2 separate regions of the Homo sapiens genome follow, and region 2 is linked to region 1. The links come from fine-mapping of genetic effects on gene expression. A gene starts in region 1. The other region holds a variant in brackets. All regions are shown on one strand. Distances are between the middles of the regions.

Evidence for each region. PIP is the estimated chance that this variant, and not a neighbour inherited with it, causes the effect.
Region 2: its variant is fine-mapped to the expression of ATP13A1 in whole blood (TOPMed, PIP above 0.99).

What each region holds. Positions count from the first base shown.
Region 1 is chr19:19,661,944-19,664,741 of GRCh38, forward strand. It overlaps ATP13A1 (ATPase 13A1), which reads right to left and starts at 1,733. Exons shown (of 26, transcript NM_020410.3): 1 at 1,328-1,733. The coding sequence starts at 1,723. RefSeq lists enhancers at 1-199, 900-949, 1,081-2,063, 1,335-1,436, 1,780-2,069 and 1 more and silencers at 1,470-1,729, 2,170-2,219.
Region 2 is chr19:19,642,219-19,645,016 of GRCh38, forward strand. It overlaps GMIP (GEM interacting protein), which reads right to left and starts at 1,439. Exons shown (of 21, transcript NM_016573.4): 1 at 1,293-1,439; 2 at 317-401. The coding sequence starts at 1,311. RefSeq lists enhancers at 316-1,271, 493-652 and a silencer at 1,283-1,532. The variant G/C (reference allele first, on the strand shown) is at 1,122.

The sequences.
Region 1 (2,798 bases):
GATATCATCTCCGCTTCTCAAGATGGCACCCAGTAGTTGTTAGTTACGGTTCTCAGTTTACAGAAGGGGGAAACTGAAACTCAGAGAGCAGAAGCGGCCCTTTCTGAGATCTGAATCAAACCCAGATCCACCTCTCCTGGCTGATGGCTGTTCAGCTCCTCCCACTTCTCCATCCCTGGAGAGGAAGTTAAGAGCTAAGCTGCTTAGCTGCAGGTCAAAAGGCAGCTGAAGTTTGAGCGGTGCCACAGTCCCCTTAACCCCTCCTTTATTTTGTCCCTCATTGGTGTCTTTCATTGTACTACCTCAAAGCTACCACGTTGAGCTCCTCCCCTGGGATAGATAAGTCTTTTTGAAGGACAGAACAGGTTGTCTCTCAGGAGAGGAGAATGAGGATTCTACCCACATTCAGAGCCAGCCAGGGTGGGGGGCTTCTGTCTTTCTGTAGCCCTTGATGCTGTTCCCTTTTCCTCTTCTTGAGGCAAACACACTCCTGGAATCAGAGGGGAAGCTTCCTGATATACCTCAGTGTCCATGGCTCCAAACCTGCTGGTGTCACCTGAGGCAGGCCCAGAGAGAGACGACACAGTCACTGCTTCAGGCCCAGGGAAGCTCACAGTCACCAACTCCTCCGACGACACTTGGTCACTCAGAACTCTAAACTGTGGGTCAGGAGCGCGACCTTGCTTGCTGTTGTATCCCCGACAGAACTCAGTATCACCACCCTCATTTTGCGGAAAGACATCATGTAAATGACTCGCTCATAAACACCTCTGCCTCTCTTCAACACTGTAATTAACTGCATTTCATGCTCCTTTCCATCACAGTATGGAAGACCACTAAGCACTGGACAGCAAGACTTGGTTCAGTCTAAGAACCAACTAAGCTTCATAGATGGGGGAAACCTATCCCAGTGATCTCGCCTTACACTTTGAAAACCAAGGTAGGAGACAGATGAGATGGAAGGTAGGGCCGTTTCCAGAACAAGAGTAGTCGCTAATATGGGAACTAGTATAAACAACTCCTACCTGACCTGGGCGACGTATGCTGGGCCCTGCGCTAAGCCTTTTACAAGTATTACATCACTGAATCTAAATGACCATAACAGGGAGGACTTCAGAAAAAGGAAATAACCCGCACCAGGCATGCACAGCAAGTCAGCAGTGGGGTCATGATTAAGCCTGCGCCAAAGTGTAGAGGGTGCCCCTGGGAATCCAGGCCAGGCAGATGAGTGGCCCAGGTCGCGATGGTGACCGACAGGAAGGCCGCAGCTGGGACCCACGGCGAGGCTCGACCGTGCTGGGGGTCGGGCTCGCGTGTACACACTTACCGGGGTGCAGGTGAGCGCGCAATGCGCGTGCACAGACCAATGCCCCGAGAGGACAGTGAGCGCGTGCGCGAGGCAGATGGTGGCAAGCACGAGCAGCGCAGCTTCGGGGATCTGCACCCAACTGCTGCCCCAGCCCCAGCAGCCAGCGGCTGCGGCACCCAACCAGGCCGGGTAAAGCAGCCCGGCGAATGGCAGCACCGTGAGGCGCCGCAACAGCGCCAACCGCCGGTACGGCCACACGGCAGCCACCAGCTCGTCACCGTTCGCTATGAGCGCCGGCCCGGCGGCAAGGAGCGCGCGCGGCTGCGGCCCGGGCTTGGGCTGCCCGTCAGGCCGGACCCCGCAAGGCCGGGCCCCGCAGGGCACCGCGTTGCCCACCGCCGCCGCTGCCGCCATCTTTCCTAGCGCCGCGCTCACTTCCGGGCAGAGGAACGCCTCACTTCCGAAGTTTTACTTCCGGTAAGCCCTGAGCGCCGCCATGGCAGCCTGGACTAGGAAGAGCCAGGGCAACAGAACAGGCTGGCCCCGGCAGGGACTACTTCGGGTGCCGCCATGACAGGCTGTGGCCGGAAGAAGAGGCTGGGCGTCGCCATGACAGAGAGGGACTGGAAGACCTAACGGTGCCTGCCTCCGCTGCCACGCCGGACTGAGACCGGAAAAGACAAGGCCGGCAAGGCGGGCTTGGGCGCCACCATGACAACCTGAACCAAAAAAAGCGAGCCCTCCTCCTTGACTACACCAGCACCACCTGTCACCAGGGGCGAAGCCTGGACCCTGCGGAGGCGGGGTCGGGAGCTTCGGAGTTCAGGAGGCGGGGCCCGGTGCGGGGGGCGGGGCTTGTGAGGGGCGGGGTCGGGGACCGCCCCGGAACACAACCACACCGGACAAGAGCCTTAATGTGATAGATAAGAATTACAAATACTAGCCGGGCGCGGTGGCTCACGCCTGTAATCCCAACACTTTGGGAGGCGAGGCGGGTGGATCACCTGAGATCAGGAGTTCAAGACCCAACATGGTGAAACCACGTCTCTACTAAAAATACAAAAATTAGCCGGGCGTGGTGGCACATGCCTGTAATCCCAGCTACTCGGGAGGATGAGGCAGGAGAATTGCTTGAGCCCGGGAGACGGAGGTTGCAGTGAGCCAAGATTGCTCCACTGCACTTCAGCCTGGCCAACAGAGCAAGACTGTCTCAAAAAAAAAAAAAAGAAAAATGAATTACAAAAACCACTTTAGGCCGGGCGCGGTGGCTCACGCCTGTAATCCCAGCACTTTGGGAGGCCGAGGTCAGGAGATCGAGACCATCCTGGCTAACGCGGTGAAACCCCGTCTCCACTAAAAATACAAAAAAAAAAAAAAAATTCTCCGGGCGTGGTGGCGGGCGCCTGTAGTCCCAGCTACTCCGGAGCCTGAGGCAGAATGGCGCGAACTGGAGAGGCAGAGCTTGCAGTGAGCGGAGATTGTGCCACTG
Region 2 (2,798 bases), 20 kb before region 1:
ATAGGACTTGAAAAAGCATCTGAAGGGCCCCAGATAACTTTGAGGTTCATAGAGTGGGATTATAGGGATCGCAAATATTTTAAGGGGTTACAAGGATATGTAGGGGTTCTAGGACCACTTTGGGGATTTCCAGTCTATTTAGGGGGACACTTTTAGGATACCGAGGCATTTTGGAGGGTCCCATCCTAGACTTCTCTGGTTATTAGGTATGTAGGTCCAGATGTTACAGGTTCCAAATGGGACTGCAAGGCACCTAAATGGTTAGGGGCTTGGGGCATCTTGGCAGGATTTGGGGGTGATCCAGGCTCAGACTCACACGTTCCCCAGTGAGATTTCGAGGTTGTCCAGGCTCCGGAAGATGTCACTGTACCTCTTCCTGCCCTCAGGACCTGGGGGGAGTCCTAGGGGAGGGGAGTGTAATACATGGGCTAACCACTGCCTCCCTCCACCCACGGCACCTCAACCAGTCTCATTTGGAGGGGGTGGAAGAGAAAGGGAAGAGTGAGAGAGAGAAAGAGAGGGCTGGGGGGGGCTTGGTTGGGGCCAACTCGAGGCAGGCAGATGGACTCACACACCACCAGAGACCAGAGACAGCTGCTCGGGGAACAGAGACACCCACTCCCTGGGTCTGCCTGCACCCAGAAGCAAACCAACAAAACAGATGCCCCAGATGCAACCAGGCTGTCCCGAGAAGAAAGCCGGTCTGACAATGGAACCACGGGCTAGACAGATGGAAATACACAAGGGACAGCCAGGCAGAGCCTGGGGCAGAAACACACATGGAGAGACTGAAGCCGTGAGGGACATAAAGACCGAATGACACTCCACATACACAACACAGACACAAAGACGGCCGGAAACACCAAGTCGGACCCCGCCACATTTCTACTGCTGCCCCCCTGCCCCCTCTCCTAAGGGGCCTAGACCAGCACTGCCGACTCCCCAGGGCTACAGAGGGGCCCTGTGGGGATCCTACCGCGTTGCCCTCTCCCTCAGCAGTCGTGGCACCCTGCCCCCATCACAAAAATCAGAAGCAGAAGCAGTCACTTCCCCTTCCTGGGCCCCCTCCCCCAGGCGTCTGGGGTGAGGGATCAAAAGGGGGAGGGGGAGTGAAGGGCTGG[G/C]GTCCTGAACCCATCCGGGCACAGGGCTCCCCACAATGGAGGATCCCTGGGTCCTTCCCATTCAGGAACTCCTCTCCTGGCTCTCAGGACGGAGCGGGACAAGTGTGTGCCCTCAATGTAGGAAGCAGGGGATGGTCGGGGGAGGCCCCTCCCGGATCCCCGACCCCCTACCCGGCTCTGCTGCGTCCATATCTGGGCCCGGGGATCGCTCTGCAGGGACCGGGATGGGGATGGGGTCGCGCGCCGGCGGGGCCGAGCCCCGATTTCCTGCCGCCGCAGCCGCCGCCGCCGCCTCGGTTCCGCGTCGCCCTGCCCAGCGGAGGCCACGCCCCCGCATCAGACCACGCCCCCGTAGCCCGGAAGCCTTGATAGTGCCCTTCTCTACCTGAGCCGCTTGAAACTGGGTCGGGCCAGGGCCCCCTGAGCGACCACTCGAGGCTGCAGTGCCCCTGACCTGGGCATCCTAAGACTTCATCTGGGCCATAGGTTCCCTCTCAGATCTTTGTGCTACCCCAAATCCCACGGAGCCCCAGCCCCCTCCTCCCTGAATGGTTGCAGAGTCCACCTGTCCCGGGGGGCCTCTCCCAGGAGCTCCCACAACCCGCGACCCTGGTGATCCCCTTGCCCAGGTTGTCTCTCGGAGCCCTGAAACCACCTGGGCCTCGCTGGAGCCATGGCGCCCCCTGGTGGAGGCCTGATATTCTGTCCGATTCCAACCAAAATTCTAATACTCGGGCTGGAGAACCCCTGGCCTGGGGGACGCCCCTTCCGTGACCCTCAAAGCTGGATCAGGCTCAAGGCCCCAATTACAGCACACCAGGGAGCAGCCCTTTTAGGTAGGGAGTGGAGGTTTGTCCAAAAGCACCAGCTCTGGGGTTGCCACAAGCCGCCTGTTATAAAAATGCTCCCACCCCCAGCACAGTGGAATTTTGGGGCTGGAAATAGACTTTAAAGTATGTTTATAACTTTGTGTCCAAAGGCTTTGGCTGTTAAGGAGGCAAGGATTCTCTGACTGGCTCCGTGCTGCCTACTCTGCAGTTCTTGAGTTGTGATGAGTGAGTCCATTGAAAGGAATAACACTATCAACCTAAGAGCCAAGCCAGGTTTCCAGGTCACATCCTGGCTGATGCTCAGCCAGAGCTCCCTGACTGTGACATGAGATGGTAGAGCAGCGCAGGCCCCCAAAGAGCATGACAGAGTCAGTACTTGTTTGTTTTTCTTTTGAGTTGGAGTCTCGCTCTGTTGCCCAGGCTGGAGTGCAGTGGCGTTATCTCGGCTCACTGCAAGCTCCACCTCCTGGGTTCACGCCATTCTCCTGCCTCAGCCTCCCGAGTAACTGGGACTACAGGCACTCGCCACCATGCCTGGCTAATTTTTTGTATTTTTAGTAGAGATGGGGTTTCACTGTGTTAGCCAGGATGGTCTCGATCTCCTGACCTTGTGATGGGCCCGCCTTGGCCTCCCAAAGTGCTGGGATTACAGGCTTGAGCCACCGGACAGAGTCAATACTTGTAATGATGCAGATCATATTCCTCAAGTCTCAGACACCACCCGAGAGAAAGGCATGCTGTTATGTATTATGGGAAAGAAAAAAATATCACACATCCTAAGGCTTCTCTCAGCACCTGAGTTGTTAAAATGTGAAAGAGACCTCAGAAATATGGGGGTGCTTGTTAA